Linked DNA regions of Homo sapiens. The protein of the gene in region 2 purifies or fractionates together with the protein of the main gene of each other region. This does not show direct contact. Each region holds a gene or a part of one and is shown on either strand. Other genes may lie near its edges.

The links.
Region 1: the proteins of DEFB1 (region 2) and PM20D2 purify together in Homo sapiens (affinity purification with mass spectrometry; 2 studies listed by BioGRID and IntAct, with this or other methods). This does not show direct contact.
Region 3: the proteins of DEFB1 (region 2) and PMPCB purify together in Homo sapiens (affinity purification with mass spectrometry; 2 studies listed by BioGRID and IntAct, with this or other methods). This does not show direct contact.
Region 4: the proteins of DEFB1 (region 2) and ARB2A purify together in Homo sapiens (affinity purification with mass spectrometry; 2 studies listed by BioGRID and IntAct, with this or other methods). This does not show direct contact.

What each region holds. Positions count from the first base shown.
Region 1 is NC_000006.12:89,156,028-89,163,054, forward strand, and holds part of PM20D2 (xaa-Arg dipeptidase), read left to right. Parts: intron 1-2,297; coding exon 2,298-2,433; intron 2,434-5,377; coding exon of another isoform or gene 5,378-5,481; exon of another isoform or gene 5,482-5,743; intron 5,744-5,755; coding exon 5,756-5,863; intron 5,864-6,081; coding exon 6,082-6,236; 3' UTR 6,237-7,027. UniProt on the Homo sapiens protein: Catalyzes the peptide bond hydrolysis in dipeptides having basic amino acids lysine, ornithine or arginine at C-terminus. Postulated to function in a metabolite repair mechanism by eliminating alternate dipeptide by-products formed during carnosine synthesis.
Region 2 is NC_000008.11:6,874,935-6,881,912, forward strand, and holds the start of DEFB1 (beta-defensin 1 preproprotein), read right to left. Parts: upstream 3,003-6,978; 5' UTR 2,924-3,002; coding exon 2,863-2,923; intron 1-2,862. UniProt on the Homo sapiens protein: Has bactericidal activity. May act as a ligand for C-C chemokine receptor CCR6. Positively regulates the sperm motility and bactericidal activity in a CCR6-dependent manner.
Region 3 is NC_000007.14:103,307,430-103,314,456, reverse strand, and holds part of PMPCB (mitochondrial-processing peptidase subunit beta isoform 1 precursor), read right to left. Parts: intron 6,862-7,027; coding exon 6,749-6,861; intron 5,506-6,748; coding exon 5,362-5,505; intron 4,143-5,361; coding exon 3,982-4,142; intron 2,815-3,981; coding exon 2,729-2,814; intron 2,650-2,728; coding exon 2,561-2,649; intron 2,402-2,560; coding exon 2,326-2,401; coding exon of another isoform or gene 2,258-2,325; exon of another isoform or gene 2,251-2,257; coding exon 2,186-2,250; 3' UTR 1,889-2,185; coding exon of another isoform or gene 1,814-1,888; 3' UTR 1,511-1,813; coding exon of another isoform or gene 1,356-1,510; 3' UTR 1-1,355. Other genes in the region: DNAJC2 (dnaJ homolog subfamily C member 2), read left to right, coding at 1,356-1,510, 1,814-1,888. UniProt on the Homo sapiens protein: Catalytic subunit of the essential mitochondrial processing protease (MPP), which cleaves the mitochondrial sequence off newly imported precursors proteins. Preferentially, cleaves after an arginine at position P2.
Region 4 is NC_000005.10:93,877,662-93,884,688, reverse strand, and holds part of ARB2A (cotranscriptional regulator ARB2A isoform 1 precursor), read left to right. Parts: intron 1-3,000; coding exon 3,001-3,219; intron 3,220-7,027. UniProt on the Homo sapiens protein: Plays a role in the regulation of alternative splicing, by interacting with AGO2 and CHD7. Seems to be required for stabilizing protein-protein interactions at the chromatin-spliceosome interface. May have hydrolase activity.

The DNA.
Region 1 (7,027 bases), on a different chromosome or scaffold from region 2:
GCGCCTGCCTCCACACCCAGCTATTTTTTTGTATCTTTAGTAGAGACGAGGTTTCATCATGTTGGCCAGGCTGGTCTCGAACTCCTGACCTTGTGATCCACCCACCTCAGCCTCCCAAAGTGCTGGAATTACAGGTGTGAGCCACCACACTGACTGGTTTTGTTGATTTGAACTATAAAGTTAGTATTTAAAATCATGTACTGTGTAAAGTGGAGTGAGTTTTAGAATTATACAAGATAAGAATCTTGCCCTAGAGGGAGCCTGTAGTCTAGTTGGAGAGACAAGATCTTGACCCATAACTCTCAGCCTAGCTAATTCTGTAACCTTTAGAAATGTTTAGTGTCTTTGGCTCTCCATTTTCTTGCTTGAAAAATGGAGATAATAACAATTTATCTTAGGATTCTTGTGAGAATTAAATGAGATAATGTTTCTGAAGGGTTTAGAGCCCAGCCTTCATTTATATTGCCTTATTTTTTTCTGTTCTTATTAGTCTAGAGATGTATGATTGATTCACGTAGTAGCAGTATCTCACAGTAGCAGTAATTCTCAGAAAGCATATGTTACGTGTCCTGAGAGTAGTGTGGAATGTGTCGTGAGGATCAGAGGTGGGAAAGAGTGGTCTGGGGCTGTTAACCTTGGAGGAAGGTTTTGTGGAAGACTGTAGACCTGAACTGAGCTTTGAAGGTTGATCATACTTTCAGATATGCATGGGAAAGACAGAGACTGAAAGTTCTTAGGGAATATAGTCAGCAAAGATAAGAATATAGAAGCTCGTGTTGTGTTGTAGTTAATCGATAAACATATGGACAGATGTAGGAGCAAAGATGTATTCTCATATGCCACTAGAGAAGATGGTTATAGTGAATGAAAACTGTGAAATGTCCATAGCTGAGGGCAGTAAAAACTAAATATTTATTCCCTTATTCATTTATAATTATAAATATTTATTTGTGAAATACTTATGGATGTGAACTATTATCATTAGGCAATATCTCAAGGTATACAGTATTCCCTTATGGTAAGGTTTGTTGTTATTGGATTTGAATCTATATTTAATTTAATTTATTTATTTTTAAAGTTTTTTGTAGAGATAGGCTCTCCCTGTGTTGCCCAGGCTGGTCTCAAACTCCTGGGCTCAAGTGATCCTCGTGCTTTGGCCTCCCAAAGTTCTGGGATTGCAGGTGTGAGCCACCTTGCCTGGCCTAAATCTATATTTTAAATAATCTTTTAGTAATTTCTTATATTTTGGCTGACTTGTAAGGTCTGATTTGGTTGTCATAATTTCTACCGTAGATGTTGCTAAGAATAAAAGAAATGTCATCTCTGCCATTTTATGATTGGCTTTTGCTAATATTGGTTTGAGGGAATATTGCCAATTTTTATTTAATCAAAACTGAATCTGTAAATCCACTTAACTGGGCACATAAAAGCTGCTTCCGTATCTTTATATACTGAAATTAATAAATGAGGACTGTTGTCAACCCTTCCTCATTGCAAATCTTCTACATTTCCCTCAGAGTACTTTTCTACCTCTCACACCAGGCAGTGATGTCAGTGTCAGTTTGCATATTGAATATTAGTAAAGCTTAATTTCTTTTTTTTGGAGACTGAATCCTAGAGCAGTGTTCCTCAGAGTGTGGTTTTTGGGTCACCTATGTCAGAATTACTTTGAGGTGCTGGTTAAAATAAAAATTAGGCTGGGTGCAGTGGCTCATGCCTGTAATCCCAGCACTTTGGGAGGCCGAGACGGGCAGATCACATGAAGTCAGGAGTTTGAGGCCAGCCTGGCCAACATGGCAAAACCCCATCTCTACTAAAATACAAAAACAATTAGCTGGGCTTGGTGGCAGGCGCCTGTAATCCCAGCTACTTGGGAGGCTAAGGCAGGAGAATCATTTGAACCTGGGAGGCGGAGGTTGTGGTGAGCTGAGATCACACCACTGCACTCCAGCCTGGGCAACAGAGTGAGACTCCATCTCAAAAATAAAATAAAAATTTCTGGGCCCTTCTCATACCCTATCTAGGTGACTGAAGTTGACACTTGGTAGCTAGTATAGAGCTTGGTGACATTGTGGGGTTTAGTGTATATATAGCATAAAAGAGAGTCCTAGGAACTCTCGTTATAGAAAATAAATCTTTTTTCTTTTTTAAGGTAAGAGATTTGAGAGTGTTTATATCTGGAAGGGAAAGTATCTTCTCTTAAAACCTCTTCCTATTAGAGAACAATCACTGGTTTGAAAATTAGATAGTGAATTTGAGTTTTTTATTTCAAAATTTGTTTTGCAATTTTTTATTAGGTGGAAATTAAAGGTGGAGCACATGATTATTACAATGTTCTTCCCAATAAGAGCCTATGGAAAGCCTATATGGAAAATGGAAGAAAGCTAGGAATAGAGTTCATTTCAGAAGATACAATGTTGAATGGCCCTTCAGGTAATTAAGTGTTTTTTTATATATTGAGCTATTTGAGGAAGAGAAATACCATCTTTGGTTAAATTGGTTGTATTTAATGGTTTGGGAGGTCGGGAGGTACTACTGACGTTTTTAATATTTTCACAAACTTTATGGTTAGGGGAAAGAAACTAATGGACTCTTAAGTGAGTGTAGAATGTCAAACGAGCAGACTTGATTTTAGAAATAGTCAACCTACATTTTTGTCTGTATTCTAAATATTTTCTAGTGTTTAAGTTTCGTTAGTTTTAATTTTTAAGTAAGTTGCTAAGGTGGGATATAGAATTTTAATTCATTCTCAGTCATCACAATAAGCAGGTTACTAAGTACTTAGTTATCTGGGGCATTTTCAGTTTCTGAGGAGCAACAGACAGCTAGAATTGAAATAAGCATATTTGGGGTTATGTTAGTTTTTTTTTCCTTTTAAAAGCATATTATTACTAATACATTTGCAAGTTAGAGATGTATCATCTGTTTTAAAAATAGATGTTGTTGAAGTAGGCCCAAAAGGACTTGGTGGTGAAAATGGGGTGTCGGTGTCATTCATTAAGATAAGGAGTTCAAGAGAAAGAGCAGGTTAGGGTAAGAGGGGGTTGTTATAAATTATTAGTATGTTAAACTTGAGGTGCTTATAGTATTTCTAAGTGGAGCTGTTCAGTACCTGTTAAATCTAGAACCCAAAAAGATGTCTAGTTTGGAGATTTAGGAGTTGTCCATATATGAAAGGTATATAGAAGACATAGATGTCGATGAGGTTGCCCAAATACATAGAGGAAGAAGATTCCCAGAGATCAGACATTGGCAGTCAACGAAGTGGTCAGAGAGAAAGCCAGACAATCAGGAGAGAGGAGAAGTCATGGAAGCCAAGGGAGAAGAAAACTTACAGAAGAGAAGGAGGCATAAATCATGTCAAGTGCTGTAGAGACTGAATAAGATGAATATGGTCTAGTGTCCACTGGACTCTAGTAATTAGAAATTCATGAATTGTCTGGAAGAAAATAGTATAAGACCAGTGGTACCAGATGCTGGGTCTCACTTCTCTACCCAGGGCATTGACTGCTGAGATAGTGGAAGTAGCAAATGAAGACTATTCTTTTTCAAGAGAGTTAGCTTTCAAGGAAAATAGAAAGAGTGGATACAAGCTTGAGGGAAATACGGAAAAGAAAATAGTTTTTAAGGGAAGATACTTGAGAAGTAGATGTAATGTTTAGGAAGGAGGTCAGGGAGTTCAGAGACTTTCCCTCTAGGAAGTAGCACACAGTGAGCATTGAGCTGGTAGGGCTGAGGGATTGAGAGAGAATTGCCACTGAGAGGAGTTGTCCAGGGACATCAGAGTTTCATGTTTTCTTTTGTTCTGGACAGCAAGAAAGCTCAGCTCAGCATGGTTCTGTTCTTTTACCCTAGCAGGTTTCTGCTGTCTAGCTGAAGAAGGGAAGACACATGGCCTGCTCTACCCCGGGTTTGGGTTTTATATAATGGACAAAACAGTAGGATAAAGTGGCTGTGATTTTGGTATGATTTGTGGGCTCTAGGGTCTAGTTCCACAAGTAAGATCTTAAAATATGCAACAGGTTTTTTTTTGTCCATCCTTTTTTGTTTTGTTTTGTTTTTACACTCAGACTCTTTAGACTCTTTAAACACTGGAGAGGCTTTTTCCATCCTGTTCACTGATGTCCCATTACTGTGCATCCTCAGTGTGTGGAGCCGTTTCTGGCACAGTTAAGTGCTTAGTGAATATTTTCTGAAGCAGTACTTCTATAGAGGCTACTATGCCTCAAAGTCTGGCCTCAGTCTGCATTTACCACATAACTAGCAGCTGTGAGACTATCGGCATGTTATTTAATACCCATAAGCCTTGGTTTCTTCATGTTTAAAATGGAAACTGTTCTAAATATTAATGAGAATACATACAAAGCACTTAGGATTGTGTTTGGAACGTAGTATTCCAGATAAATGTTAGCTACTCTTTGTCACATATTCCTTTATTCTCTTACCAATCACTGTGTAGTCTCACTTTGCCTGCATGGTGTTTGACATGTAATAAACATTCAGTAAATATCCATTGAGTGAACATAAGGCTTTGTTTTTACTGTGATTTATTCAACAAGTGCCTGTGTGTCAATCCTGTGAGAAGCTAGATGCACAGTCATTTCAAATACTATTTCTTGCCTCATACAGCCTCATAATTTAGTTTCTGACATAAGCATGAACCAAATCATCCAATACATGGAAAATTAAAAAGTACTGTAAAGGAGAGTAATACATCTCTGTGAGAGCTTATGCTAGAGGAATTTCACTTTATGGGAAGGTGAAGTAAGTAAGGCTTTGCTGAGGAAATGATGCTTAAGATGGAATTTGAAGGTTAAGTAAGAGTTACAGAGATGATGCAGGGATAGCATGTGCAAGGGTCCTGTGACAGGGAGAGCATGGTGAGTGTCTAGAGCGGCTAGGGCATCGAGAGTAGTGGGAACATGGTATGAGATCAGGTTGGAAAGGTGAATGAAGATTGAAAAAAAAAAGACGGCAAATAGAGTAGATGCTGCTAGACCAATTAGGAAACTTCTAGTTCAGGCAAGAGATAATGATAGCATAGGCTGAGGACAGGTGTTGGTGATGGTGATGCAAAGAGCGTTAGGATTCTGAGATATTTGGCAGGTACTGTTGATAGGTGGAGTGGAGGTAGAAGAGAAAGATCATGAGTTTGACTTTAGATATGTTAAGTTTGATCTACCTTGAAGACATCCAAGAGAAGATACCAGGCTGGCAACTGGATGTATGAGCATGGAACTTAGCAGAGACTGGGAAGAGATTTGAGTTGGTGGTGATTTGAAGCAATACATACGGACAAAATCTTGAGAAAGAATATGCAGTAAGAAGAGAAAGGGGCCTGGAATGGAGTCTCCCGTAACTATTATTTCATCGTCAGGTAGAGGGGGCTCTATCCCCAAGAGAGACAGAAGAAGGGGCCATCAGAGAGGCAGAAGGGAAGCCATGCAAGTGCTGTGTCACAGAAGAGAAGAAAGGGAGTAGGTGGCAGTGTGGAGTGCTGGCCAAGAGGGCCAGTAAAAGCCGTGAGACAAGGTGAGGGCAGGTTTGCAGTGACCTTCATGAGAGATGTGACTGATACAGGGGAGTGGGTGGCAGACTCAGTGGAAGGTGAGCCCATGAAAGCATGAGCATACGGACAACTCTCCAAGAAGCTCACTTCTCTGCGTCTCTTCTAACAGGGACTGTGACTTCATAACTCCAGAATACTTAACCACATATACTTAAATAGACTTTTCTTAACTTTGTGTGTTCCAAGGATCTACGGATTTTGGAAATGTTAGTTTTGTGGTTCCTGGAATTCATCCATATTTTCACATTGGATCTAATGCCTTGAATCATACTGAACAGTACACTGAAGCTGCTGGTAAGTGTTGTTGGATGTGACTGTTTTGGCACACACACTCTTCTTCTGGTAGTAGCTGCCTTTCTGTTTAACCTACTATTTCACTACATAACATCACCTCAGTAAATACTGCACTGTGGTGGGCAGTTGGAGAGCCAGTTGAGATACGGGTAGCTAACCTGTGAAATTAAATACAGCTTAAATAAGTAAGGAGGTATTTTATTTTCTCTACCTTTTAGGGTCACAGGAAGCTCAGTTCTACACTCTGCGGACGGCCAAAGCTCTGGCAATGACGGCACTGGATGTTATTTTTAAACCAGAGTTACTGGAAGGAATCAGAGAGGACTTTAAACTGAAACTTCAAGAAGAACAGTTTGTAAATGCAGTAGAATAAAAGACTTAGGGGCCACTTATAAATCAAGAAGACGTGATGATTTTTTTCTTTTAATCTCTTTTAATGAAGGCATGCTTGTTTTTTAATCTTAAAGGAGTAAAATTCTTTTTACCTGATAAGTGAGGACAGGGTGTGGAGAAAACATATTAATTACCTCATATCTAAAGTGAAAATTTTTGCAAATCCGTACTTGATAGGATTATGATATTACAGGAGCTGGTATGTGATGCCATTCTTTCTTTTTTTTTACCCCGCAACCACTCACCTTCACAGTAGTGATACCATTTCTTAACCTGGAGGATACATGGCATCATTTTTATAAAATATGTTAGTAAACCTTTTTGTAAGCCTTAAATGTTATGTGTATTTTTAAAAGCTTAAGAGATTTCAAACCTTATATTCAGAATTGACACCCATGAGAGTGTTTTGTGGTATAGGGTGGTAAACTTGTTCTCTAATCGTATATTAATTCCTCTACCAGATTGTATATTTGAAGCCAGTGTCTTTCCTTTTTTTGTTTTAAGATAGAGCCTCGCTCTGTTGCCCAGGCTGAAGTGTAGTGGCACAATCTCGGCTCACTGCAACCTCTGCCTCCCAGGTTCAAGTGATTCTCCTGCCTCAGCCTACCAAGTAGCTGGGATTACAGGTGTGTGGCACCATGCCCAGCTAATTTTTGTATTTTTAGTAGAGACGGCATTTCACCATGTTGGCCAGGCTGGTCTCGAACTCCTGACCTCAGGTGATGCACCTGCCTCGGCCTCCTAAAGTGCTGGGATTACAGGCATGAGCCA
Region 2 (6,978 bases):
TTGTGCCACTGCACTACAGCCTGGGTGACAGAGCGAGACTCAGTCTCAAAAAAAAAAAAAGTTGGTTCTGGACAATCAGATATTCATATTGGGGAAAAAAAGTAACTTGACCGTTACTTCATACCGAAGCCACACACACACACACACACACACACACACACACACACACACACACCCCATTGCCAGATGGATTGTAAGTCTAAATGTAAAAAGAAAAAGGATAAGCTTTTAGAAGACAATATTGGGGACTATCTTCATGTCTTTGATGTAAAGAAAGTCTTCTTAAACAAGATAGAAAGTGCAGTAACCTTACGGAAAAAGACATGACACATTCGACTACATTGAAATCATGATAAAAGCCTCTTTTCTAGGAAAGTTTCCATTAAGAGAGTGAAAAATCAAAACACAAAGCAAGAGAAGATATTTGTGATGTATATAATTGACAAAAGGCTTGCATAGAAAATACATAAAGAACTACAAACCAATAAGAAAAGACAGATAATCCAAAAGAAAACATGGACAAAAGACAAACAGGTATTTTACAAAAAATAACCCAGTTGCCTGTAACTATGTATAAAAGGGCCCAACTTATTATTTATCAGGGAAATGCAGATTAAAACTCCAGTGAGCTATTGCTACACTCACCAGGTGGTTAAAATTTAAAAATAATTGATGTTATCAAATGTTGGCAAGGATACAGAGCAAGAGGAACTCTTATTCACTGCTTGTGGGAGTGCAAGTTGGTGTAAATAATCTTGGAAAACAGTTTGGCATTGTCCAATACAATTGAATATATGCATAGCCTATGATCCGGTGATGCAACTTTTCAGCATGTAGAAATAGAGGCATAAGGGCACCTACTGGCCAATAGAAATGTGTGCACAAACCAAGCTGTACTATTCAACCTGAATATTAATTAGTGTGGCAAAAGTGTAAAGAATATGAAAAGTTACCACCATAAAAGTCAAGTGAGTGATTATTCTTGGGGGTAGGAGGGAGTTGTGACTGGGAAGGCTCGAGAATAGCTTCTCATAATTCAATTTAGATATAATAGACTGAAAACAAAAATTCTTTATGTTAACAAAGTGCCTTTCAAACCCTTTTGAGTTTGGACTGAACCACCATCAGAAAGAAATTTCTCACTGCTACTCAGTAAAAACATATGCACACACCCCAAACTGAAATATGGGTGTAATTAAATAGCATCTACTTTTACTACATGGCATGAAGTAATATTTTCTATTCCTTTAAAAAAACATGGGCTGGGCGTGGTGGCTCATGGCTGTAATCCCAGCACTTTGGGAGGCGGAGGCAGGCGGACCATGAGGTCAGGAGTTAAAGACCAGCATGACCAGCATGGTGAAACCCCGTCTGTACTAAAAAATACAAAAATTAGCCAGGCTTGGTGGCATGCACCTGTAATCCCAGCTAACTCAGGAGGCTGAGGCAGGAGAATTGCTTGAACCCAGGAGGTGGAGGTTGCAGTGAGCTGAGATTGTGCCATTGCACTCCAGCCTGGGTGACAGAGCAAGACTCCATCTCAAAAAAACAAAACAAAACAAAACAAAAAAACACGGTAGGCTGAGTGGAGTGGCTCATGCCTATAATCCCAGAACTTTGGGAGTCTGAACTAGGAGGGTTGCTTGTGCCCAGGAGTTTGAGACCAGCCTGGTCAACACAGTAAGACCTTATCTCTACGAAAAAATAAAAATAAAAAAATTAGCCAGGTGTGGTGGTGCATGCCTGTAGTCACAGTTTCTTGGGAGGCTGAGGTGGGAGGATGGCCTGAGCTCAGGAGGCAGAGGCTGCAGTGAGGCGAGATCACACCACTGCACTTTAGCCTGGGTGACAGAGTGAGACCCTGTCTCAAAAAAAAAGCAAAGCAAAAACAAAAACCAAAAACCAAAAACCAAAAAAAAAAACAAAAAAACAAAATCCATTGTAGCAACTGGCAGCATGAAAAGTTCTGCATTTAGAATGCTTTTGTACTCAGCTTTCAGATGGAAAAACTGAGGCATAATTGGAATAAATTAAGCCTATCTGCTGGATACAGTGATGGCCTAGAGAAACTTACAATAGGATCTTACAGAGACTTTCTGAACTGGAGTGCTTGCTTTCAGGATCATCCTTCCCAGCCCCTCATTCTGCAGATGAATAAACCAAGGCTTAGCACCATGTGACTCGTGTGAACAAGGATAGGGCTGGGATAAAACATGTTCCCGATTCCTCCTGCACGTCCCACCATCATGTCAGGGTCATGGCTGCTTTGGCCCAGAGAAGCTGACATACACCTGGCTCACAGGAAGCCCCCTCCTATTGACTGGGGAGACTGCTAACCTGGAGAATGTGGATGCATTTCTCAGGAGAGGGAGAGGACCGCCTGCCTGCACAGGAGGTGAGTCCAAGGCACCGGCTGAGCTGGCCTGATGGGTGGGGCGGCAGCACCTCACCTGTACCAGGGCACCCCAGGAGGCTGCACCCAGTGACGTGGGCTGAGGATGGGGCCGGCCCCTCTCTCTGCATAGGAAGCTGGCCTCTCAGTGTGAGGAGTCGTCTTGCAGGGGAAGCAGCAATCTCATCCACATAGGATACTGTCTACATGTCCAGGACAAGGATGCAGGCAGCTGCCTGTGACAAGCGCCATGACCCTGCCAGGCTCACTCCTTGGCGGCTCACAGACCCTGAAGGCTTGGCAGGGCTTGCCTGCTGCCTTCTGCCAACTGCAGGCCACTCAACCACGGGATGCTTTCCTGCTGCTTGTTCCTCGTCCCTTGGGACACGGAGGCAGCCATCCGAGACTCACATCAGCCCCATTGTCCCCAGCCCTGGGGATGGGAAACTCTTGCAGGTACCAGAGCTTACCTGAGGCCATCTCAGACAAAAGTAAGCAGAGAGTAAACAGCAGAAGGTAGGAAGTTCTCATGGCGACTGGCAGGCAACACCCAGGATTTCAGGAACTGGGGAGACGCTGGCTCCTTTGGAGGCTGAGCTGACAGAGGCTTCCAGAGGCTGGAGCGTCACTGTATTTATAAGACTGGTGGATTGCACAACCTCGTCGACGGAACTGAAGGGAGGTGCCACAGTCAAGGGTGAACTTCTAATCGCTAACCCCTGGTGTCATTTGCCCTGAGCAGTCAGCAGTCACATGGCACATTGTCTCCATCTGGCTGCCGCTGGATTTAGCTTTCAGCCTGGAGCCCTGGTGCCAGCTCCTCCTGTTTGGTTTTCTAGGTTAGGCAGTTCTGATGGGGTTTCTGGAACAGGCAGTTCACACTGGAGTCCCTCCTTCTGGATCACATGGAGGAGAGCCACAGGGAAGCTCTGAGCAGGGGGCCGCTCGGCTCTAAGCTGGTGTTGGCCTCTTTAGTTTGATTGTCTTCCTGCAAGACAAACTCAAACTTCACCCTCTTCCCTTGCAGAAGGAGAGCTGGTTGTAATGAAGTTTCTTCCTCTGGCCAAGGCTACCTTCTCATCTCTCCCCTTATGCAGAACACTCTCCTCGATGGACCAACTTTTCTCTTTTCCCACTAGACGTGTTCCTGGGACGTTTCCAAAGGGCACTCCTCAGAAAGTGAGCCCCCAGTGTGGCCCTTGGAGGGTGAGGGTCTGGGCCAGCCTGGGCCCACCCTGCAGAGCTACAACTGCCAGATTGGGGTGCTGTTAGCGACTCTCCAAGTATCCCTCAGGTTTTCCTTGATTCTAAAGATTTAAGAAACATTTTATTTATTACTGATTTTCATTGTAATTCTGTGAGCAGCTTTCCTGATGTCTCAGTGGCTTATTTGCAAGCAGCAGACGCTGGCTCTCGCTGACCAAGGAAGGGAAGAGTTTATTCGGAGGATATCAGGGTTGGTGGGGGGTGGTGGCATTGCTGGAGAACCCAGCTTGAGGCTCAGTTTCCAGGAATGACATCCACCCTACACTGTCACGGTGGTCCAATGAGAACCCCATACTGCAGCCACATGGCATGAGACACCCAGAGTGGAGTGACCCTCAGCCACTCTACCGCTGGCAGAATGCCATTCTGCACCCAAACATGAACCTGCCGTATACTCCCACTTCAACCCTGCCAGAGAAAGACAGAGAGAGATCCAGAAAGATGGACAAACAAAAACAGAGACAGAGGAAGAGACAGAGACATGCAGAGAGACAGTAGAGAGACACAGAGAAACAGAGAGATAGAAACAGACAGAGAGAGATGGAAATAGAGAGAGAGAGAGAGATAGAGAGAAATAGATTCAGAGAGACAGAAAGAAGGAGACAGAAAGATGCAGTGGGATCCTGTAGCTAGCTCATTGAGGCAGTTCACAAAGGGTGTTTGGGAGAAAACTTGGAAGAGGCTGAGCCATGCCTGACCTAGGAGCAGTGAGATTGTGGAAAGAGAAAAGAAAGAACCGAAACACAGCTTTCCTTGCTGGTGCTGGGTAAGACATGGCTCAGCCTCTTCCAAGTTCCTCCCAAACACCGTCTGTGAACTGCCTCAATGAGCTAGCTACAGTATTCTATCGGATCTGTTTCTGTCCCTTTCCTTCTGTCTTATTGAAGCCACACTATGATTCTTTGACCAGGCAATATAATCCTCATGTTAGAGAAGAAAAACACTGGGGTTCAGAGAATTGAAACAAATTGCCCAAGGTCACCCTGCTGGTAAATGGAAAACTGGTGTAATGGCCTGGAAAGCCTCATTCCCTAGCCTCTGTGCTGACCGCCTCCTGGGGAGGCTTCCAGGTTATTACACCAGGTGTGGGTTCAATAAGATTGTGAAAGAAAAATATCTCAGGCACCTTCAAGCTGGGAACTGCTTATTGCGAATCTGCCTCTTTTTCTATTCAAGTCATCTTTTTGCTCCCAGAGATACATGCGTATTTCGATTAACTTTTTTGGAAAGACTTATAATAAATTCAAAAGAATGCAACCGGTCAGGGCGCAGTGGCTCACGTCTGTAATCCTAACACTCTGGGAGGCCGAGGCGGGCAGATCGCCTGAGGTTAGGAGTTCGAGACCAGCCTGGCCAACATGGTGAAGCCCCGTCCTTACTAAAAATACAAAAATTAGCTGGGTGTGGTGGCACACACCTGTAATCCCACCTACTCAAAAGGCGGAGGCCGGAGAATTGCTTGAAACCAGGACACATTGGTTGTAGTGAGCCGAGATCGCACCACTGCACTTCAACCTGGGTGACAAAACCGCACTCCGTCTCAAAAATACAATAAAAAGAATGCAACTGTCTGTCTCTCACATACCTGTGACCTGGAAGCCCCCAGTGGTGGGGGCCTTGCTTTGAGCTGTCTCTGCCTTTCTGGACAGAACTATTGTACTTCTTATACATTGATTGATGTCTCATGTCTCCCTAAAATGTATAAAAGCAAGCTGTGCCTTGACCACCTGGAGCACATGTTGTTAGGATTTCCTGAGGCTATGTCAGAGGTACATCCTCAACCTTGGCAAAATAAACTTTTTAAATTAAATGAGACCTGTCTCAAATTTTGGGGGTTTACAAGATAATAAAGTAAAAAATCTCAGAATGCTGCCGGGCACCATGTGAGGTCCGATGGTGTCTGTAGATCCTGGGAGTGAAAGGAATCTAAACCCTGGAATCCTGATTTTCAGGACTGATGTTTTCTGCTCTGAACCTGGAAAACTTTTTTTCTAAATTTTATTTTTATTTTTTATTTATTTTATTTATTTTTTTATTATACTTGAAGTTCTAGGGTACATGTGCACAACGTACAGGTTTGTTACATATTTATACATGTGCTGTGTTGGTTTGCTGCACCCATTAGCTCATCATTTACATTAGGTATTTCTCCTAATGCTATCTGTCTCCCCTCCCCCTACCCCACAACAGGCCCCGGTGTGTGATGTTACCCACCCTATGTCCATGTGTTCTCATTGTTCAATTCACACCTATGAGTGAGAACATGCGGTGTTTGGTTTTTTGTCCTTGTGATAGTTTGCTCAGAATGGTGGTTTCCAGCTTCATCCATGTTGCTGCAAAGGACATGAGCTCATCCTTTTTCATGGCTGCATAGTAGTCCATGGTGTATATGTGTCACATTTTTCTTAATCCAGTCTATCATTGATGGACATTTGGGTTGGTTCCAAGTCTTTGCAATTGTGAAAGTGCTGCAGTAACATACGTGTGCATGTGTCTTTATAGCAGCATGATTTATAGTCCTTTGGGTATATACCCAGTAATGGGATGGCTGGGTCAAATGGCATTTCTAGTTCTAGATCCCTGAGGAATCGCCACACCGACTTCCACAATGGTTGAACTAGTTTACAGTCCCACCAACAGTGTAAAAGTGTTCCTATTTCCTCACATCCTCTCCAGCACCTGCTGTTTCCTGACTTTTTAATGATCGCCATTCTAACTGGTGGGAGATGGTATCTCATTGTGGTTTTGATTTGCATTCCTCTGATGGCCAGGGATGATGAGCATTTTTTCATGTGTCTCTTGGCTGCATACATGTCTTCTTTTGAGAAGAAACACTTTGCTTTTTAAGGTTACATTTTCAGGATTTCAAGCATCCTGTGAGGGTGCTAGAAGAAGGTCATTTTAGTCCCAGTGTCCAGGGCATCACCCTGTTCCGCTCACGTCCATCAACAGGGTGATGCTGGAGAGCAGAGCTCACTCCTGGGCGCTCTTGAGGAGTGAGGCGTGGTAGCCAGCTCGGAAGGCATGGGAGCCCGGGCGAGATGATAAGGAGGCCAGGTCCTGTGCCATGTGCCCAGGAGAAACCACATACAAGCAGAATGCAGCATCTACTTTCACATAAATATTGCAGTGAGACTGGCCAGAGTCCTGGCTTCATCACTCACAATTGACCAAAGTGTGGCCTTTGTGGGTGGGCGCTGACTAAGGAGACTGATGGGGGCTGTGGTGGCAGAAAGTGCACAAGCCTTTGACAGCCCAGGGATGAGGCTACTGACCCACCTGTGATGAATGACAGTCTAATGGAGGAAATGACACCCGGG
Region 3 (7,027 bases), on a different chromosome or scaffold from region 2:
TGACCCTGTGAAGGCAAGAGTGACTGGCAGTAGTGCTATGTGGGTATGACTCCTTTGCCTCTTTTATGGAAATGGGAAGGCTCCTTCCTCTTCAGTTGTACCATTAAACAGCAAGCTGGCACCATTTTTTGAATAGTGATTTCTCATAGGAGTTTTGCAACAGTACGTTTAATTTATTTTGGTATTGTGAAGTAACTGGAGAACAGCAGGAAATACTGCCATGTCACTTCCATCTTTTTTCCAAGAGAGGAAATAAAATCTATGGTATTTAGGGCTTTAAACCAATACAAGGAAATTCAACAAAAGACTTCCTAGAACTTAAAAGCTACCTTCAAAAAAGCTTCTTAGGCACCTTAGGTACCATCAAATATTATACAAATTCTCTGCTTTGTTTTGAATAGGTGGTGGTTTTGTTTTGTTTTGTTTTGTTTTTCCTTCTTTAATTGGGAAGGAACTTTGGTTTCTAGGCTTAACTTTTAACAGATCTCACAGGCCGCAGTTTCTAGTAGTAGTCAGGCTACTGGTAGTATTAGTCTGTGTTGTCACTGCATAGTCTGAAATAACTAAATTGCCAGAAGTCCATTAACTTAACCAAATCAGCTTTCTACCACTTAACATTCTACTTTTACCTACACAAGTGGACTGTGTAATACTTAACATCCTTAAGAAACATATTTGTTTCTGACACACATCTTAGATGTTTTCTGAAATATACAAGGTTTAGTTGAAGAACCACAATAGCAGTTATTGGAAGTGTTCAGCATCGGCTCCCAAGATTTTAGCAGATGTGACGAAGAGAACACCACACTACAACACAATCTAATCTCAGCTTGCCTCTCCAGCACTGGTACCTTGGGCACTTGGCTTAATTTTGCTAGGTTTGTTTCCTTCAGTGTAAAACAAGAATGATTTCCAGGGTTTCTATCCAGCAAAAGTTTAACTGTGAGGAAGCTCTTTTACCTATTCTGTAAGGAAGTAGATTTATCAGAACTCTTAATGAATTGTGGTTGTGTTTTTGAGTCCAAGAGTCCAACAGTACTATAAATTTAAATATGGCTTTTTACCAGTCTGGTGAGTGTATTACATTGATTTTTAAGAGATAAACAGTACAAGGTAGATCTTTACTATTGTGTTTTAAAAGCCTTTGAGATTTTATTTTCTGGGATGTGAGCTATCTGAAATTTTTTCTCTTATTAACACTCAGAGGGCTATATGTATCTCTCATCTCTACAAGTTTATTTTCAAAATGACACATCCCAGATTGAAATGGGCACTTAGCGAATACTTGTGGACCACAAGACTTGTCTGAGAACATGTTCAAAGACAGTTTTCAAATAAAAATTTTTCTTAATCAGGTCCATATACAGACTTCACCCCTTGGACAACAGAAGAACAGAAGCTTTTGGAACAAGCTTTGAAAACATACCCAGTAAATACACCTGAAAGATGGGAAAAAATAGCAGAAGCGGTGCCTGGCAGGACAAAGAAGGACTGCATGAAACGATACAAGGTTGCAGACTTAAGCGTTTATAGATTGTTGTATTTTAAATTGTAGCTTGGGTGATATAGCTCATATTTTATGTCTATTAAGTGGTTAATAATATAGTGCTTATTTCAAAACCAGTAGTTATGGGGTCAATATTATGAGGAAGAAATGAGCAACCTTAGAAACTTTCTAGGCCCTGGCAGATAATGAAATCAGTATATTTAGTACTATCTATCTTAGTTGCTTGAATTCTTTACACCAAACACTAGATTAAAATGTCTGTTTTTAAATCGCAACTTCTTAAATCACACCTTTCTCCCTTCCTAGGAACTTGTCGAGATGGTAAAAGCAAAGAAAGCTGCTCAAGAACAAGTGCTGAATGCAAGTAGAGCCAAGAAATGACAATCTTTGTTGTGTGTGCATTTTTATAATAAAACTGAAAATACTGTAAACATTTTCATTCTTAAAATTATACTCATGGTAATAATTTGAAAGTATGCTGCTTCCAACATAATTTCTCAGAGAACAAAGACTGACCATTAATACAAAACAACCTTCAGAGGGGTAGTCTTTTTATCCTTTGAAAGTATGATACAGTATTTAATTCAAATTTCCAAATGTATATACATGTTCATTTTTATTTTTCTCTAGCTCTGTTTTATAAATACATGTGTTCAAACAATCTTGATTAGGAGCATTTTAATCACGAAGCCAACACATGTTACTGCGTATCTGTTTAAAATCTGGTAGTTGCTTAATGGGACCTAAGGATTAAAAAGAAGAGTTAATTAAAAGTACTTGGCCAACTTTTTGCATAGAAGAAAAGAAGCCAGGCTTACCAACAGCAGCAATAGCTGGACTCCTATTATAAATGTATTTGGTACATACTTCTCGAATTGTCTCAGCATTCACAGCCTGAAATATGGAAGACACTGTCATTCAGCTGTTTGTAGTAAAAACAAAGTCTATACCTGGAACTTTTTAAAACTAAAGCAAGATGAAAGATACATATTCTCAGCTTTTGTAACAAGGATCTTTTTACACATGACCCAATAGTAACTCAGGACTACTTACATCAATTCTTGCTTCAAGCTCAGGGATGGGAATCCTTCTATTATAGCATAACATTTGCCTACCAATATCTTCACAAATTGGAGTTGAACCTGTTTAAAGAGAAGGAAAAATTAACTATTGGAATACAGATCAACCATATGAAAACAGAACCTATATCTTTATTTTTACCATCAAGCTGCAACAACATGTTTGTTTTCAGAAGATTTCTGGCTCGTGCAACCTCACTTTCTGTGACACTTGTACAGAGTCGCATCCTAAAAAACGTGGAAAAACAGTAGTAGTTGGAAAATGTTGTATTTCATGAGTTAATGACCTAAGAATGATGATGCCATCTTCTACACAAAACATACAGGTGATTACAATTTAATTCCAATGCTAAGCAAAAGCTAAAATGATTATTTTCCCCAGTATTAATTTCTCAAAAATGATACATAAACATGCCTAATTACACATTAGCAGACAAAGGCTTTATACAAATGGGCTGATCACATTTTCAGAAATGCTATAAGCATCTTGAGACTTCATGAGTCCTCATCTGTTGGAGTCTGATATGCTATGGGTTAAGTCAGTGGGTCATTCATTGGTTTCTGAAAACAATGAGTAGAGTCTAACTTAAATCTAATTTTTAACAATAATTACATCCTAGTTGACTAGATTTAGAAAGATGTAAACCAATTAAGAATAGTGGAGGAAAGGAACCAGAGCTAAATGTTTTCCAAGAAGCTGCGAGCCTTTCTGCCCATCTATCGACTCAATATACTTTGTTTTCTTTTAGCAGTGGCAACTTCAGATTTACTTTCCCTTCAACCAGATTACTTTCAGAGATATTTTCCAAACAACTTCTAGTTGGCTTTTAAACTTTTAGGATCATCTTTCTGAATTAACCTGCTTCTGAAAGATTAAAACTTTCAGCCAGGTGTGGTGGCTCACGCCTGTAATCCCAGCACTTTGGGAGGCTGAGAAGGGTGGATCTCCTGAGGTCAGGAGTTCAGGACTAGCCTGGTCAACATGGTGAAACCCCATCTCTACTAAAAAATACAAAAAATTAGCCAGGCATCGTGGGCATGGTGGTGCGCCTGTAATCCCAGCTATTCGGGAGGCTGAGGTGGGAGAATGGCTTGAACCTGGGAGGCGGAGGCTGCAGTGAGCCGAGATGGCACAACTACACTCCAGCCTGGGCAACAGAGCAAGACCTCATCTCAAAAAAAAAAAAAAAAAAAAATTCTATAGTATAAATCAGCTTCACATCTTGAGACTTAGGAAAAACCAACTGCAACCTTTGAAAACATGGCAACTACTGTTTATCTAGGTCTCTTAATTAAAAGGTAAAATTACCATAAATCACCATAAAGTATAAATAAAAAACTAGTTTAAAACGAATTAAAGGCAAAATTTAAATTACTTAAAGCTATTTTTCTCACCATTCTTTTTGAACAACATGTAGCATGTCTGCAACAGTGGATGATTCACAAACCATATACAGTCCCCATAATCCTGTATCTGTGTAGGAAGTGTTGAAAGACTGAAAGCTATGGCAAAGATTGCCATGACAAGTGAGCTGGGCCAGCTTGCTAGATAAATTCTGCAAGGAAAAAAAAATTCCAAGAGAATTTTAATTATACATGTCCAAAATACAGAAAGAAAAATGGAGTGTGTGGAAAATAGTGAATATCCTTAGAGGCTGTTTCCTAGTTTTATTCAACATCTCAGTAGTAGAGTTAAAATTCAGTATGACTAAGAATTGTGTTTATTATCTCACTTACCCAGTGCACCCCCTGGAGAAATTCATGTTATAAAAGCAATGAGTCCTTATAATTAATGTAGTAGCTATACCTACTTCTAAAACTAGATGGCTATTATCAACCCAATTTCTAGGACTCTTGGCTACATACGCTTAAAGATTCAAAGTTATATTGCATATGAAGCTTAAGATTATTTAGATGAAATGTATTTTGGAGAAATCTATGAGTAAAGACAAATCTATACAATGTGTTTTGAAATAATTCCAACTTACAAAAAAGTTGCAAAAACAGTACAGAGAATTTCATTTATCTAGATTCCCTGTTATTTTACCATGTTTGCTTTATTCTCTTTATACAAGTTTTTTCAACTGAGTTTTAGATGTGATGCTTCTTGCCCCAAATACTTTAGTATGTACTTGTGAAAAACAAGGAAATTAATGTTCTTACATCACCTTGGTATAGTTCCTCAGTATCTGTGGAGAATTGGTTCCCAGATCCCTGTGGATACCAAAATCCACAGATGCTAGAGCCCTCATGTAATATGGTATATGTAATATTTGCATATAAGCACATTCTCCTGTATACTTTAAATCATCTCTAGATAAATACCCAATCCATGTAAATGCTATGTAAATAGTTGTTATACTATATTGTTTAGGAAGTGACCAAAAAAAAAGTCCATACATGTTTAGTACAGATGCAACCATCCATTTGTTCCCCAAAATTTTCCACCTATGGTTGGTTGAATCCACGGATATGGAACCCACAGATATAGAGGGCCTACTGACTATTAAAATTAGGATATTAACATTGACATAGTACTTCTAGCTAATTCTGTCCTTATTCAAATTTTGCCACTAATAAACTTTGTGGCAAAGAAAAAAAGAAACTTTTTCTGGCCCACATGCAATCCAGGATCAGTTTATATTTTTAAGTCAGAATTCACAGTACAAGACTCTATTCTGCCACTTTAAAAAAGGATTCTTACAAAGAACTTATATTTAAGAAAACATGATAATCTTCCATCTGTTATGGAAAATTTCTTTTAAAATCACTTACCATTCCTCCCCCAAAAGAGCGATCCCAGTTGCCAATCAGCGTGTTTGCAACCATGAGACAGATTGTATCTGGATGTGCCCAACCAACAGCTTCAACAGCTATTGCAAGGTGCGCCAAAGGCATCTTGTCATCCCTCACACGAATCTAGTTAAGATAAAGCAGGAGGACCTCTAGTTAAGATTAACATTATATAACATGCTTATTAACAAGGAAAAAATCACCAGTCCCATTAACTGCAAAGTTAAAATGCACACCAGGACTCTATTTTGATTTTTTAACTATCAGGCCTCATTACATTGTTGAGTTTAATCTAGAAGAATTAAGACTAAATTAGGGAAAAATTACTTTTCCCAAAGCATTTTACTACAGACAGGCACCACATGGTTTACCTGGTCAAAAGGGTTGCATCATTTCACTGGTAGAAATCAATCCTTTGTGTTTGTCAATCTGAATTTGTCTTTTTCTTTCTTTTTTTTTGAGACAGAGTCTCACTCTGTCGCCCAGCCTGGAGTGCAGTGGCACCATCTCGGCTCACCGCAACCTCGGCCTCCCATGTTCAAGCAATTTTGCCTCAGCCTCCCGAGTAGCTGGGACTACAGGCATGCACCACCACGCCCAGCTAATTTTTGTATTTTTAGTAGAGACGGAGTTTCACCATGTTGGTGAGGCTGGTCTCAAACTCCTAACCTCAAGTGACACACTCGCCTCAGCCTCTCCAAGTGCTGGGATTACAGGCGTAAGCCACCGCACCCGGCCTCAATCTGAACTTTTCTATTGAAATGTCATATTGACGTTACAGGTTTATTTTTGTACTGCCAATGCTACAGTTCTAGGCAGCTGCCAATATCAGGGCATTTTCCAGATACTACTTTGAGCATCATCCTCAACATGGCAAACTAAGCAGCTAGTGGGGCTTAAAGCTAGTTGATAACTAGTAGATCCCCTGCAAGTTCTGGCTCTAACAGTTACTACCCCCTCCCAAAACATACTGTGGGCAAAACTGAGCCAAGAGTAAACCTGAAGTGAAAGTCAAAATACGGGGTTTAAAAGATTACTTCCAGATATTACAATATGTAAATTGGCATAGTGCCAAAGAAAAAGCACAAAAAGACCAAATTATAAACTGCTCTTAAAAACTTTGCTTCCTTTCAGACTAGAATGGAGAAATTTAAAAACAAAACAAAAAAAACCTTGCTTCCTTAGGAAGAAAAATAGGTGGTTAAAGAATACGGAAGAGGAAGGAATGTAAGCAAATGAGTACATCCTCTTCCCTTTTCCTATTATTCCATTCTTTTCCTACTGGAAATATGCACATTTTGTTTACTTATGTGTAAATACAACACAAGGAATCCAAAAGGCTAAATACTAGCTGGAAGGCTTGCCCTACCTCACTTCCTGTGAATTTGCAGGGAGGCAGAGCTGGTATTTCTCCTTTGTGTGTGCATAAAGAGTCACCGAAATGAAACTTTGCTAAGTCAAGCAATTCATCATGGGAAACACCTAAATTGAAAGAAAATATTTTCACATGTATCTAGCAGCAATATAGTTTACAATAAACCCTAGGTGGTATAATGTGATGTACATTACACATGAACTATCTACACTCACTAAAAGCCATTATTTAAGAGTAAGCTCACATAGCACACCTATTTCCTTGGTGTTGCAA
Region 4 (7,027 bases), on a different chromosome or scaffold from region 2:
AATGTTCCTGAGTATTTCTTGATTGTTGTCACATTAATTAAATTGGCAATCTGAAATATCTAAAGGATAAAATATTTTCTAAATAGTTTGGGTGTTTAAATAGAAGCATCCATTGTTGAAATCTAAATGATAACAAATCTTCAATTGATTTATATAGTGGTGATTTAAAAATAGAATCATTTCTCATCTGTTGATGCCTAAGGGAAACATTGACATTGTGCCTTTATGATATTGAACAGATGAGTCATGTAATTTTCAGTTACTTAGACAAATACTGCTTCTTTGATGATATATAAATGCCTTTTTTAAAATACTTATTTACATGGAACATATCAAATTTCAGAGTCTTATTTCAAATTAAGTAGGCACGATAATTTTTCAATCTATGATTTCTAAAAATTGAAGTTTAAAGTTCTGCTCAAATAAGCCAGATATGAAAATATTATTTTTTTGATTAAGTAATAAGATAATAGTCTTACAATTCTGGTGACTGTAAATTTTGTTCAAAGAGTTTACCTTTATTTGAGATTTATTCATTATACAAAGATGATGCCATGTTATTTCAGCTTATTAAAGTCCCACTCTTTTACCTTGAGTGAAGTTTTTGAATTTGAAATTTTTCATATTATCATTAAAATGTAGTATATCACTATTTTCATCTCTACTAATTTTAAGATTCTATTTTGGTCTTGCTAATTTTAACTCCTGAGTATGAGAGGGTGGTGTGTGTGTGTGTGTGTGTGTGTGTGTGTGTGTGTGTGTGTATGTGTATGTGTATGTGTGTATGTGTGTTTAAAGTTCAATTCACTCAGAGAAGGCAAGGAAGAAACATGACAGGAGACCACTTACTCACGGTACAGAATCTAGTAGGGAGGCAATTTTCTTTTTGGCCTATGGTGACCTTTTTTGACTATGTTCCTTACACCAGAGACAGTGTACTGAATGCCTCTATTTCACCCTGTTTAGCAGAGTGCAACAGTGTTCTTTAACTTACTTTTGGTGGGAGGAGAAGTTATAGCTGAAATTTGAGAAGGGCGTGAAAAGTTGTAAGAGGCACAAGGAAGAGGGGTAGGAACTTCCTTCAAATGTGATTTTAATAACTAGTCAAGTGTGTCCAACTGTAGAAAATCACCAAGTGACAATCTGTCTACCTGACAGTGATCACAATGAATTACAAGACTTTTGAATAGCTATACAGATTAGAATAAAGCAGGACCAAATAAAATATCTTTTGTTGGTAAAACTTTTGACTTAGAGCTAAGAAACTTTAAAAAAAATTCTCTTTTGCTTTGATGTAGAAAGTTTAAATTACAGAATGTGTAAAGTGTTTTATAAGCTTTTTGTGAAAGAAGCATTATTCTAAAAGCTTTATTTGAACATCTGTTGAAGAATGGGTGGTGGTTTGTAAATCAGTTTGCTATATATTATTATATAGTTTCCATATATGTAAGATGACTGTATCTTAATTAATAGTCCTATCATTAAAATCAGAACTTCAGTGATCTTGAAAATTTCCAAACTAAATAATCGTTTTAGACAATAATATCATCTGATGGAGGAAAAAATAGAAAACAATTCCAAAGAAGTTTGTAAGTAGTTTGTGAAATCAACTGTTTAAAAAAACCAACCATGTGCAGTAATGCAGCATATTTTAAAATAAGATAATTGAGTCTGTGCTATTACTGGTTTACTATTACTGCTGTCAATTTTTTAAAATCATCTTATGGTTGGTTTGGCAAAAAATTTAAAATTTAAACTTCAAGTAGAAGATTCTACAGTTACTGTCTTGAAAAACTATATATACTACCTATTTTAAGTAAGGATGAGATTTTATAAGTTTTATTTTCTATTAAATAGATTTTCTAATAAATAGATTTTGTGAGCTATTTTCTGTAGCTCTTATGTTTTTATTATAATATCATACATCTTTTAAATATGACCTTATAGTATTTTACAAGGACATAATTGGAACCTCACAACACATAACTGAATAGAAAAGACAAGATATATAATAGCTTCAAAAATTTGTGTTACCCATGCTTGTCAATGGTTATTGTTTATCCCTCTCTATATTTTCTCATGGTTAGCTTATTCCATTAGACATAATATAAATATCAAACGTTTTCTTAATTATAACCACAGAAATGTTTGCCAGGCTAGAAAGAAATGAGACAGGAAAACATGTTTTACAAATTTAAAAAAAAAAAAGCCTTAATAGCTCAACAAGCTGTATTTTTTAACTTTGGAACCTTGCTTATTTCCTGATTATAGTTTTTAATAAAGAGAATTTTTATGGTAGGTTGAAAAATGAAAGAAATTTTAAGATTAAAGACTTGCTTCCATACATTATAGTAAGACAGTGGCTTATTTTGCTACATGATTTTTCTGGCCTCCTGTGAGAAACAAAGTGAATAAAATTCAAGGTACACAAGTAGATGTTATGTCTTTATAATAATGTAGGTATGGATGGTTTTGTAATGTTAAATCAGATTTATTCTTTTTTAACTGCTTATTCTTTTTAATTGTTCAGACAAATAAAAAATGCTCTTGAAAGGGCCATTGTAAAGAAAAATATACAAAAAAATGTAGTTTGAATTGTAAACTTTGATTTCAGAGGTTGTTTTCTCAAAACAGATAGTATAAATATTAATATAATTTGAAAGTTTACTTGAAAATAAATTATTTGCTAATTTATTTCAGTCATTTTTGGGTTCTGAGATATCTGAATTAGTTTTTTAATTTAAGCTTTATAATCTTTATGTTGCAATTATATTTTTTGTTCTTATAAATAATAAAAGCTTATTTATATACACAATAAAGGCAAACAATTTTAAATGACTTTCTTTTGAAAAAAATAAAATCATTATCTTGCCTAAAGGAGTATTTTAATGAATATGCAACTATATAAAAATTGCTTAGACTGAAATTTTAAGAACTTTTTTGAAAATTGAAATGGATTATAAGATTTAAATTATGCTACCTTCTTTCATTTCAAAACAGGAAGGATATGGAGTAATAGTACTAAATCCCAATGAAAACTATATTGAAGTAGAAAAGCCGAAGATACACGTACAGTCATCATCTGATAGTTCAGATGAACCAGCAGAAAAACGGGAAAGAAAAGATAAAGTTTCTAAAGAAACAAAGAAGCGACGTGATTTCTATGAGAAGTATCGTAACCCCCAAAGAGAAAAAGAAATGATGCAATTGTATATCAGAGTGAGTGAGATCACTACTTTCCTTTACTATTTTCTTTACCTTGTATATATTTTATTATATGTAGATTGTTTTGTTTTTCTTCAAGAATATTAATTTTTTTATTTGTCATCATTTATTTCCCATAGTCGTCTACTTGGATTAAATGGGTTTTTAAATTCAGAATTACAAAACGCATCATTCTTATTTCAGTGTGACATTTTATAGAAGTCACAAATGCAAATTCTGTTTCCTTTTGTGTCATATACTACCTCAAGAAAAATTTTCTAAAATAATTTTATTGTGATGGATGCAGAAGGCAGAAAACTTGCCAATTCAGTTTCCAAACACGCTGTTTCTTTAAGGAAACATAGCATCAGCATAACATGCCGTTATGTTGTCCATAAGAGAGAGTATATGTAGCCTCACAATTCTAAGACATATCACCTGCTGAATTAATAATGCTCCATACAAAACATTCATCTTGGGGGGTAAGGTTTACTGGATAATGCATTGTTTTACGATGAGCAACTATCTACAGTGTCTCAGCCTAATGTCTAAAGGCAGATAGAGGGAGGAAGAGTAATTAATATCTTAATAAATACTTAAGCCAAAATAGTGTAGGGATAGTGTAATGAGGGAACTCTGTCCTTTTCTCTTGTCCTACCCAGCGAACTTTTACACTTTGTAGTACTAACGGTATGGGATCATTAGAGCAGTGTTGCCCAAGGATTTCTAATTCTGTAGGGGGCACAAACAATTTTGTTTACACTTGGACATATTCAGAATGTTGACATGCATACTATAAATTATATATATGAGACATTTGTCAATTTTCAAAGCCCTTATTATGGATGCTAGAAGTTTAATAGTAAAGCATGTCGAAAATGCTACGGGTTAAGAAAAATAGTATATTGAAATAGTCCTCAAAAGTGAGCAATTCAGAACATTTAAACACAGAGAAAATAACGTTTTATAAATTATACAATAGGATAGTAGTAACATTTCAAATTATTCAACTTGAACTATTTTTACATTTACTTTAGAAGATCATTAATAAAATGTTTCATACTACCTTTTAGGGGAAATATATTGCTTTCTAAGTTTTTATTTTCTGTATTATTCTAGTTCATGGCATAATCACTCTACTTTTTGGAATTGTGCTTTAAACATTCAAAATATTTTATTTATAGGTCAGTCTATTGAGTAAGCTATGACAGTTAAGCAGTGGTGAAAACAGCATATATATTCCCAAGACCCCAAAAATGTATCCTGACAAGGAATTCTCAAAGCAGCTCATATAGTGAATCAAGCAGATTATAATATTTAAATTTTTAGAAAGCATCTCACTATTTAATATATTATTTGAAAAGCAAGAACGCTTATTATATTTAGAAGCAATAAGTAGCTTGTTTGTTCCAATGCGGTTATATCACCCCCTTTCTTTCATATGATTACATCGGGGTCATGATGTTACCATCTTCTCTATCAGTTGTACTAAGCTTCCTTCTATATGATCCAGTCTGTAAACCACCATCTTATGACAGGTTAAAATTTTTAAAAGATTACCTCTGATATCCAGATTCCAGAAATGAATTATATAAGGCTTTTGAAATATAAAATTATAAGGAATACCTACTTGTTTATGTAAAATGCAAACAAAATGATATTGTATATTAGGTTTATTTCTTCTTAAACAATTTTTTTTTGCCTGTGACATGTACAGATTAAGCATCTATCTCAGATATCAGACATCTGTCCCGTAAGTTTATTTCTTCCTATTTTGTCTTTATCTTGTCACCATTGCTTTGCTTTTTTTCTTTTGTTCTCTTTATGCATGCATTTTCTTTATTCTGTTTTTCACATCTGCTTTGTTTTTCCTCTCATCTATTTTTTCTTATACCAAGGAAACAACATTCTTTTTATGTTGCTTCATTGTTAAGACCTGCTCTCTTTCCTTTTGTTTTCTTTTTAATTATTTTCTCTCTTTTAGACTCCTGTCATTTTTCCCTCTTTTCTAAGTCTTTTTGCCTCTTTGTCCCATTTCACTCATCAATTCAAGTTCCCAACAAAAGCACCAAAAGACAAAAATAGGCCCAAACACATAATACAACTTTGTATCGATGGTCTTAGTTATGAAATGTTTTTTCTTAGTAAACATCATTTCTCTTAAAATCTTCTGGAATTTTGCAAAATAGCAGAGATGTGCTGACACTCTTCAAACATACTTCTAGATAGTAAGTTTTGGCCTTGTAGTGGGAAAGAGAAGAACGGTTCATTTTGTGTGAGGTGTATTAATTCCTTAGTAATTTTGATCCATTCTGGAAATGACTTCTGCTAGTGCTCTTCTTCTCTCTACTTATCTCCCAATACCAAGTGTTTGTAATTTTCAGACACAGAGCATTTTATATGATGGAACTAAACTAACTTTTATTTATATACTTCTTACCAATTTACAATTTGAAATTATCTTCTATTCTTTGTGACAGCCTAATAGGTAGATGAATCACATCATTTTGTCCTGATTTTATAGTTGGAAACTGATGCACAAATGTTAGTCTAGGATCACAAAGCTAGTAAATGGTAGATAATAAATCTACTTGTTGAAACCAGGACTAGTAATTACTGTAGATTCTTCCCCTCTTTCTTCTTTACCACATTGTTCTGTAGATTGAAAACAAAATATGTATCTGAAATTTGAAAATTAAGCCATGTGTAGTAAATGTATGATACAATATAGTAAACAACATTTGATGACAAAGATAGATTTTTGATCAGCTATTATTTAATGGACTCTGTTTCTTAAATGTTTATAAACAATTTATATGTATAAATGTAAGTATTTCTATAAATATGTATATATATTTATATATTCTCTACAAATAGTATGACTAATACTGATCCAAATTTACAGATCAGATTGTGGGTCAAAAATTTTTAGCTTTTGGAGGGTGGAAACTCAGTCTGAGGACCCTGCCCCAGGAGCAGGAGCTATCATATCCTCCCCTCTGCCACTTTCCATTGCAACTAATAAAGCCTGTTTGTACCATAAACACACACACACACACCCCTTTGAGTAATTTTTCAAAGGTCACATAGCTCTTAATATAAGCTTCATGAGGGCATGTACTTAGTCTGTTTTGCTCGCTACTGTATCCCAGAGCCTACAACAGAGCCTTCATAATAAATATTTGTAGAGCAGATCTTTCACAATAAATTTTAAATAAGGTGGTAGAGCCAGGATTAAAACCCCTCACTACAACTACCACTTTTTAAAATATGTCCTGCATTATTAAAGTATACAGCTTGATTTTCTATGAGGAAACATTCCAACAAACCAAAACAAAAAGTCAAACAGCACTACAATTGTTGACTTCCCACTCAATCCAGTAGCTGAGATTACAATCCAAAAATTAATGGTATAAGGTCATTATTTGATACCTTGAACTATATATTTTCATCTGAATATATAAAAGTAGAATATCCTATTTTCCTTTTGAGCTATGTCATTATACTGCTAAAATTATGGATGAAAATGGAAATGTTTCAACCTGACCCATTGCAATTTCTGTGTTACACATTTGCTCTTAAGAGTACAGCCAGGCTGCTGGGGTTACTCTACCCTGTACAAACTTTGTGCTTTATGGAATCTGTAACTTCAATTTCTGTTCTTTCCTGAATCCAAAATTCTATCCACTTACAACCCACGTTATAAGTGCCTAGCTGAAATGCCACCTCTTCCTCTCACTATAACCGATGACCCCTCCTTACTGAGACTCATGGAATGTATAATGATTAGCTAATTTACATGGAATTTACCAGGTACTGTCTT